Linked DNA regions of Homo sapiens. The protein of the gene in region 1 interacts with the protein of each later gene in a biochemical or structural test. Each region holds a gene or a part of one and is shown in the gene's direction. Other genes may lie near its edges.

Region 1 (4,186 bases):
GGGCCCCTAGTGAGGGCATACAAATTCCTGTGATACACACTATTGAAGTCAAGTCTTTCCAGATCAGGAAAGCACAATTTTTCCTGCAACGTTGCCTTTTTATATTCATAGTTTCTATCTCTTTCAAGAACTTACATGAAGAATCTATCTGCTTCTGTTTAAAGGAAAACTCTCCGGGTTTTGAACTAAACTCAGCATTAGCAAGGCTGTATCCTTTTCCCAAGGAAAAAAGTAAAGTGTCTACATATTCCAAAAGAATGTCTCCAGGTTTTAGCATCCTAGAAAGCCTGATTTCCCCCACTATATTAGAAAGAAGCAAATGAGAGTTTAAAGAAACAAACTGTTATGTTTCACAGTGAATTTAATTAAAAATGTATGTAGATATAGTTGATTTTTCATAATACAAAAGGACCTAGGACCTATGTCAAAGTACTCTCCAAACTGATCATAAATGTTTTAAATATTTTTTGCTTTAAACAGCAAGTTCATCTGTGATACATAATGGAGAATTCCAGAAAAGATCATTTTAGAGTTTGGTTTCAAATTTTATTCCTTTTTTCCAAAACGATATTTGTATATAGAAATTCGAAAAATTAAATGATATCCTCTACACTGTAATACACACAGATGTCTCTGGGTGAACTGCTGACTACATAAATAGATCTTTACCATAGTAACCTAAAGACCATACTGTTCAAGACCAGAGATTTACAGGTTCAGAAACTCAGACTCATCAGTGCTCAAGGGCCAGTCTTTCACTGACTTGGGACTGCAGGTTTTTATCAACAATGTGCATGACATATTTTAAAAAGAAAAATCCATTTGTTAATGTACAATGAAAGTTATAACCATCAGGTGGATTAGGTAATATCTAAGTTTATTATTTAACCTGTTGGCAAATTACATGGGAAATTACAGTGATCAATAGTTTGCCTATTAGTCGTAGAAATAAAAAAAAGGGGGAGAATTTTGCAACTTGAATGTAGAATGGCCTCAGACTCTGAGAATGTTAAATTCCCTTCCTGATTGAGGACCAAACTGCAAAAAGGCCAGATATTCCTTATGGTGTTATAGCTTACCAGATCACCACGCAATTGCCTAGGTTGCTACAACCAGCGTTGTAGCTGAGACGCTCCTTGTTCTGTGCCAATGACTGGTGAACTCCCTTCTGAGGACCATCTTCTTTTAGGTAGAATTACAGTGATATTGCTAACAAGTCGTCTGTGAGATACTCTGAAGGTGCCTTTGCATGTTTCCTCACTGTCCCACATATGCCTCTTGTTTTCATATTACTGAAATAGATCTTGCCATAGCCCCTAGATTGAGAAACAAGCATAAGATTAACTTGAGTTTAACCTAAGTCTACTGCTATTTGGCCTCAGAGGAGTTGCTAAAAAAGATAAGGACTGGTTGAAGACAGGTAATAAGCAAAAGATGAAGAAGGAACAAGTTGAAATCCAAGCTATGTAATCAACAGTTATATAATTGAGAGTTCTTTAGATACATGATTACTTGTTAGCCTTAGTGCTTGCAGAGAACAGTTTTCAATAACTTCTCTAATTTTAAGCTGATACCAGTGTCTCTTAGTTCACTGATTCCACTAATTTCTGAAGCATCTTTTAAGCTACCTCTTGATTTCCTCATCACAAAATTTAGTCTCTCTTCCCATGAGATCAAAGTTAGAAAAAGTGCCTATATTTTTACCATTTCAAAATAAAATGTAGACTTAAAAATTTCAACCAACTTTGAGAAACTATAGACAGAGTTTTTATATAGAAGGACCCCAAAACAACAAATTTTGTCCAGAATCGCTCAGTACAAATGCTAACCTGAAACTTGTATTTCAGAACTTCCATTCTCCTAAAGGGCAGAGTCACTGGACCAGTATGTGTTATATGTATTTTGGCTCTTTACATTTACTCTTTAGTTCCATCTTAATACACACAAGCACGCGTGCACACAAACACACACACGCATTCACACATTTATTTAAAACCTTAACATTTTAATAGTTACTTCTAAAGTGTGTCAACTTAATCTCACTCTGAGTGTGACAGGGAGTTAGTGCCTATGTGAATATATTTTTTCATCACATTCAGTTTTTGCTATTGAGGGAAAATTATCTTTCCATCTCATGTAGTGCAAACTTAAATCTTAAATCATTTAAATATGTTTTATTTTTCCAAAGCTTACATTTCTGCATTACAAATGGTGTCCATTGATTGGAAGTCAAGCTCACTAGCATTCACTGCATGAGCTATGCATGAGCATGTTAAGGCCACCATGTTCTGCCTGGCAAAATAAATACTTTATCATTTTCCTAAGTGTTGGATAATTCCCTGACCTTTAAAAAGGACTTTGGAGAACAGATTTTCCTCTAAATAATGTATTAATAGACCAACAAGTAATTTTTTTAAAATAATAATCATGAAGTTTAACATACTTCAAGCTATCTTTACAACTCTGAAGGTTATCTTTGGGTTTCTGTTATTCCCATAGAATAAGTTGAACCAAAATTTGTAATTGTCTTGCTGTCACTCAAAAGAAATAGATATGTTTTGTAATTGTTTGCATTGAGGAATCAGAGGAAGGATTTGCAGATCAAATCTGACTAATTTTCAAATTTTGTCAAATTCCTTATCTTGTTCTTTTAATCATAGGCTTATGGTATGATTTGGCCCTGCATGAGAGTTCACTGATATAACTCAAACACATGTTTTTACTAAAAGTGGAATTAGTCCTGTATCTTCATATGAAAAGACATTATAAACAGCAAAACTCACTTTACTACAGTTTTATTTTTATCATTCCCTAGCAATATATTACTGATCATTGCTAGCATGTAAAATCTTTTCATATTTTTGCTTAAGAGCCATATATAAGTAATTTATTAAATAAAACTTTTCTGATTTGATTCTTCCACTTTGTTTCAAATAGTACCTACTGACAGAGGTTTCCCATACTTTTAACACACATTGTTAGAAGTATTTTATTATATACACTTTTAATGGCTCTATTAACCTTAAAAAAAAAAGTTAATGATATCCACCTAAATCACTATCCCTGCTAGGAAGAGAATCTTGGTGGTATAAAAATGTAGGCCTCTTAATCTGCATTGTGGATGTGTGATGAAAAACATAGCTTATCATTCTTTTTTTTCTTTTTTAGCCTTGGAATGGATGGCTTTGGCCAACCAGTTGGCATTCTTGGACGCCCTGCCACAGCATATGGATTCCGCCCTGATGAACCTTACTACTATGGCTATGGATCTTGATAAAGTATCTGTTTCCATGTGTAATCTCAGCTTAGAAGAAATCTGTGTGGGTTGGGTTAATTTTGGATCTTTGCCTAATAATGCATGTTGATGTTATTGTGGGTCTGTGTTTGTTTTTATTTTTATATGTTGTTAGCTGCAGATTAACCCCAGCCCCTCTGTCTTCTGTTAAGTACAGTTGATACTGACATTGTTCACTCATCAAACCACATCTTGATGCTAAGTAACATTTCCCATGAGCCACAAAACTGAATGCTGAAAAGCTACTAGACTGGAAAACAAACACTGCATTATGTATGTTAAGTGACTAATTTAATTTCAATTAAAAAGCGTAAAGTGAAAATGAATAAGTGAAAGTCATGTGTTTATATTTCACACATTTCACTACGAATTACATGTTAATATAGGGTGCGCGTGAATTTTATTTTTTCTCCTTTTTTTCTGCTTGTAAACTCTTGAGTAATTTGTATAATATATGCTACCTTTAAAATTTATAAAAAGAACATCACCTTCATATTCCATGCCATGTGCCTGAAAGTTTCCTTCCCAAAGTTTATTAACTATGAGTTTTCAATTAATAATGGAACATATGTCATAAGTTATTTATGGTTATAGTCTCTTTGGTGGTTTTAATTCATATCTTCCTAGTTGTAATATAGAAATCCTAGGACAAGTAGTATACAAGACAAGCAGTGATACAAGATTAGCATTTGGCTTTTAACTTTTATTCTTCATAAATTTAGTATCTAAAGCATGGGAAAGCTAATTAAAAGTCGCATTAAGGAAAACTAAGGAACAGAATATTTCACTCACTTGGGTACCCAGTTCCCAATTGTTCACTTGTTCTTATAACGTACATTTAGATAGCAAGAAATGGAGAGACATTATATAATTCATAATGGGTTTTGAAAA
Region 2 (5,294 bases), on another chromosome or scaffold:
CTTTCTGTTTAGAGAACTTCCTTTAGCCATACTGCTAGCAACAGATTTTTAGCCAAAAAAAATTTTTTTCATTCATAATGAAAGGGAAATGACATTGTCAAATGACAGAAAATGGGTATAGGATTCTGGGTTCACAGTTCTTTTCTTTCTTTACTTGAAAACTATTGTGCCACTTTTTTCTAGCCTCCCTGGTTTCTGATGAGAAATCCATTGTGTTCTTATGTGTTTTATTCCCCTGTAGGTAAGGTTTCATTTTTGTCTCTCAAGACTTTCTTTGCGTTTAGTATTCAGAAGTTTAACTATGATGTGTCTTGGCATGGATTTCTTTGGGTTTATCCTGTTTGAGTTTGCTCAGCTTCTTGAATTGATAGGTTTATGTCTTTTGCTAAATTTGAGAAGTTTTGACTGTTACTTCTTCAGGTACTTTTCAGCCCCATTCTATCCACTCTTTCCAGACCTTTGTTGACACTAATGTGAGATCTTTAATTATAGTCTTGTAGGTCCCTGAGGTTTTGTTCTTTTTTACCCACAGATTATTTTCTTTCTGTTGTACAGACTGAGTAATTTCTATTGTTTTATCTTGGAAGTTCTCTGATTATTTCCCTTGTCCCCTCTATTCTGATGTTGAACCTGTTTTTATTTCAGTTATATATTTTAGTTAAAAATTTCCATTTGCTTCTTCTTTATATCTTTTATTTCCTTGCAGAGACTTTGAGTCTCTTCCATTTGTTTAAGCATTTTTAGAATTGTGGTAAAACATACAAAACATAAAATTTACTGTTTTAACCATTTTTAAGTATACAGTTTAATGGCATTAAGGACATTCACATTGCTGTGCAATCATCACCAGCATCCATCTCCAGAACCACCTTCATTTTCCCAAACTGAAACTCTGTACTCATTAACCAATAACTCCCCATTTACCCCTCCCCACAGCCTCTGGCAATCACCATTTATTTTGTGTCTCCATCATCTGACAACTCTAGTCACCACATATATGTGGAATAAGAAACTCCTGTCCTTTTTTGTCTAGCTTATTTTACTTAGGTCTTTAAGGCTTATCTGCATTGTAGGCGTGTCAGAATTTCATTTCCTTTTAAAGCTGAATAATTTTCCATCATATGTATATATCACATTTTGTTTATCCATTCATCAATCCATGGACATTTGGGCCATTTCCACCTTTTGGCTTTTGTGAATAATGCTGCTGTGAACATTGGTATGCAAATATCTCTGAGCCTCTGCTTTTAATTATTTTTGATATATACTCAGAAGTGGAATTACTAGATCATATGGTCATTCAATGTTTAATTTTTTTATTAAATACTGTTTTTACTAATTAAATACTGTCATACTCTTTTTCACAGTGGCTGGACCATTGTACATTTCTTCCAGCAGTACACATGGATTATCATTTCTCAACATCCTCACCAATATTTGCTGTGTTTTAGTAATGGCCAAACTAATGAGTGTGAGGTGGCATCTTACTGTGGTTTTTATTTGCGTTTCCCTAATGATTACTGATGGGAATCTTTTTATGTGTTTGTGGGCCATTTGTATATCTTCTTTGGAGAAATGTCTATTCAAGTCTTTGCCCATTTTTAGAATTGAAGGGTGTTGTTGTTGTTGTTGTTGAATTGTAAGAGTTTTGTTTTTTTTGAGACGGAGTTTCGCACTTGTTGCCCAGGCTGCAGTGCAATGGTGCAATCTCGGCTCACCGTAACTTCCACCTCCCAGGTTCAAGCGATTCTCCTGCCTCAGCCTCCTGAGTAGCTGGGATTATAGGCATGCACCACCTGTAGAGATGGGGTTTCTCCATGTTGGTCAGGCTGGTCTCAAACTCCCGACCTCAGGTGATCCACCCACCTTGGCCTCCCAAAGTGCTGGGATAACAGGCGTGAGCCACCACGCCTGGCCCAAGTTGTAGGATTTTGTACCAGTACCCCACTATCTTGATTATTGTAGCTTTGTAGTAAGTTTTGATATCAGTTAGTATGAGAACTCCAGCTTTGTTCATTTTCAAGATTGTTTTGGAGATTTAGGGTCCCTTGAGATTCCATATGAATTTTAGGATGGATTTTTCTATTACTACTAAAAACACTGGTTCATTGGTTTATGTCAGTCATATCAAAATAAACACATCAGTTTCAGTAGTACTGATTACATTAAGCTTATTAGACTTCACTCATCCCATATAACAGTTCTCAGAGTCCTAACAGGAATCCTATATTTTCTTGTAATTGAAGTTAAATAGAGAAAGCAAGTCAGAAAGAAGAGGACAAAAAATCTAAAAGGGAGTCCAGTGTCACAGAAATTTGTTGAAGGATATGAAGTATAAACTTTTCTTTTGCCACAAAATTAATTTGAAACATATCCTAAGCTTTTTGGTAAGTCATTGGACTTCATATTTGAACTGGTGATAGGGTTGTATGTAACCAAACCTTGAGATCATACAGTGAGCTGTGTTTAATTATAACTCATTATTGTAATTAATCTTACATTGTAGAACTTGACGTCTCGTTTTTCTTTTTAAAAATTGGGCAAGTAGCTGTGCAGTGGCTCATGACTGTCATCCCAGCTACTTGGGAGACTGAGCAGGATGAATCCCTTGAGGCTAGGAGTTTGAGGCTGCAGTAAGCTGTGACCATGCCACTGTACTCAAACCTGGGCAGCAGAGCAAGTCCCCATCTTTAAAATTTTTTCCTTTAATTTAAAAAAAAGTAAAGTTTTTATGATTTTTTTAAATTATAATACATTTCTAAGAAAGACATTGCTAGGCTACTGCTATGTCTTTTTCCAGAATTGTTTCTAGTTTTATAAGCTTAGTCTTGTCAAAATAAACATTTTGGTATATGTTTTGGATAGACTTAGAACAACCTAACAGAATCATATCTGTTATTTTTTTGTCTTCCAGAATGTCTACACAAGGAAGTACAGGATTTGGCTTTTCTAGATGTCGTATCCAAACTTCGCAGTCATGAGAACAAAAGTGTTGCCCAGCAGGCCTCTCTCACAGAGCAGAGACTTACTGTGGAAAGCTGAGAACTGCCCGATACACGGCATCATCCCATCTCTAATTTCCCCTCTGTCCTCCATCCAGCGGCTTCTTCCGCTTCATTCTCTACCATACCACTTGTGCATGCATGTGATGTTCTAATACCAATTGAAGAACCGCTGTAGGTACCTCCCTAATAAGATTTCTAAACCTATAGTTAGTGTGATCATGACTTTGTCAAAGGCAAGTCTCCACCCATAACCGTTCTCTTGTATTCCTGTTGCTTGAGCTACATTAAGTAGAATGTGCATGTTGTAGTCCTATGATGATGTAAACTTGGTACTACATAATGACTTGCTCCACACATGCAGTAAACTACATAATGATGTACTGGTAAACTAGAAACAAAGAATGCAGCAGGATCTGTCTAGCTTATTAAAGATGAAACTGAATTGGAAAAATAGCTCCATTTTTTGGTGCTTGGGAAGCACAGTGACCAAAAAAGTTGTATGGCTGCTTATTCATTAGTCTTTCCTACTGATGTCAAATCCATGGTACCTAGAGTTAAATAAAATTCCAATGCTCTTACTCTTTAACTTCTGGTTTCTCCTTTTTCCTTTTTAGACTATTGAAACTGCCACAAACTTGGCAAGACTTTCTGAGGTTTCTGATTCCATATTTAATTGACTATTATCAATAGCCTGATATTGAAAAACATTTGTAGTTTTCAGTGTGAAACTAAGGGGTTGAAGAATCACTATTACAATCCCTATTACAGAGCATTTCGGGTTTTGCTTGTATTTTAGATTCTGATACATACGCTGTTTCACTCAGGAACTACTTCTACCAGTTAATCAGCATTATCCAGCACTTGTCTTTAAAATTCATTTGGCGCTTGTTTGTTTTCAACTGAGGAAATTGAGTATAGTTCATTGAAGAATGGAATTTTTTTTTTTTTTTTTTTTTTTGCTGTTTTTCATCATTCAGCTAGAAAGTGAGAAGTTTTATCTTCCATAGTCCTTTTAAATCTTATGTTAGAACTAGCAGGACGTAGGTGGAAAGATGAAGAAATAAGCTTGTCTAGACTAAAGAAAGGAAAGCAGGTTATAAAAGCCATAGTAGCCAGTCCAGTTCATTCTGCAGATGGCCCCATACCAATCGCTGTTAGAGTTTGCCACCTCCACTTTCCCACTGAGAACTGCAGCAATTTTAAAGGATATGAGAAAGCCAAGACTCAAGAGATGAGAAGACCCCCTTGGCGAAATATAGTGTACTCTTCACTGCCACTGCCACCACCAAATGGGTTTTTAGAGCTTTGAAACACAATCTTTGTAAATTAATCAAAACCTCCCTGTGACCCACCTGCCTTCTCCCCATACCCAAATTTGACCACTACTGGCCTAAAAGGCAAGATGGGCTTCGATATAGAAGGACTGCAAGACAGTAGAAAGGGCTGCCACGGAGGTGACAGTAGCTCCTTCCTCTCCAACATGTGATGCTACACATCTCTGTGGATAATCTAAGTTGGACTTTTGACTCTAAAACAGCTATAATCCAAGAAAGTTAAATTCTAATGGAGGTAAAGAATCTTGACTGATTGTTCCCTTTGATGTCCAAATAAGGGAACTATTGTGAGTACGTATGCTACACTTACTATAAGAATGATACTGTTTGTTGTCTTTCTCCTGGGCTGGATAGTGGACTATATTTTATTACAGGCTTTGAAAGACATCTGTAATGTTGCATATCTGTTCATATTAATAACTTAATAAATAGTATATGAAGCTATAATGGCATCATTTGGTTTGTTTGTATATTTTGTCTCTATTTCCAGCTCCTAGAATAAGGCTTGCTATTGATGTTCAACAAATATTTGTTGACTGAATGAATGAATCCTGCATCCATGAAGTTTCCAGACTGCCTGAACTAATTCCAGAAAGATAGACTGACTGACTGATAGAAAGTTTGAGATTTGATAGTTTGTCTGACTTTAGGGAAAAAATTTTAACAAAAGCATCCTAAAATCGTAAATGTGAGAGAAGTTACCATCTAGGCCAGCTGCCAGCCATCAATTTGCTAATATGCTAGGAACTCCCATCTCCAGCAAAATAAAGTGCAATTCAAAGTACTCATCATTGTACGGAAAGACCAGAAGGCTGTGCCCTTATCACAGGGGCTACCAAATTAGATGGTACACTGATGTGCCATTGCAGTGGATGGGAGAGTCTACAGACTGTACTCTCGCTTATCTCCTGCTACTAAATCTTAGTCCTAGAGGCCACTATTTATTAAGTTAGTT

What was found.
Region 2: the proteins of KIFAP3 (region 1) and RAP1GDS1 form a complex in vitro, tested with the Homo sapiens proteins (one study listed by BioGRID).

The regions. Positions count from the first base shown.
Region 1 is NC_000001.11:169,920,764-169,924,949, reverse strand, and holds the end of KIFAP3 (kinesin-associated protein 3), read left to right. Parts: intron 1-1,847; coding exon of another isoform or gene 1,848-1,884; intron 1,885-3,168; coding exon 3,169-3,274; 3' UTR 3,275-3,621; downstream 3,622-4,186. UniProt on the Homo sapiens protein: Involved in tethering the chromosomes to the spindle pole and in chromosome movement. Binds to the tail domain of the KIF3A/KIF3B heterodimer to form a heterotrimeric KIF3 complex and may regulate the membrane binding of this complex.
Region 2 is NC_000004.12:98,439,076-98,444,369, forward strand, and holds the end of RAP1GDS1 (rap1 GTPase-GDP dissociation stimulator 1), read left to right. Parts: intron 1-2,914; coding exon 2,915-3,042; 3' UTR 3,043-4,783; downstream 4,784-5,294. UniProt on the Homo sapiens protein: Acts as a GEF (guanine nucleotide exchange factor) for the Rho family of small GTP-binding proteins (G proteins) that stimulates the dissociation of GDP to enable subsequent binding of GTP.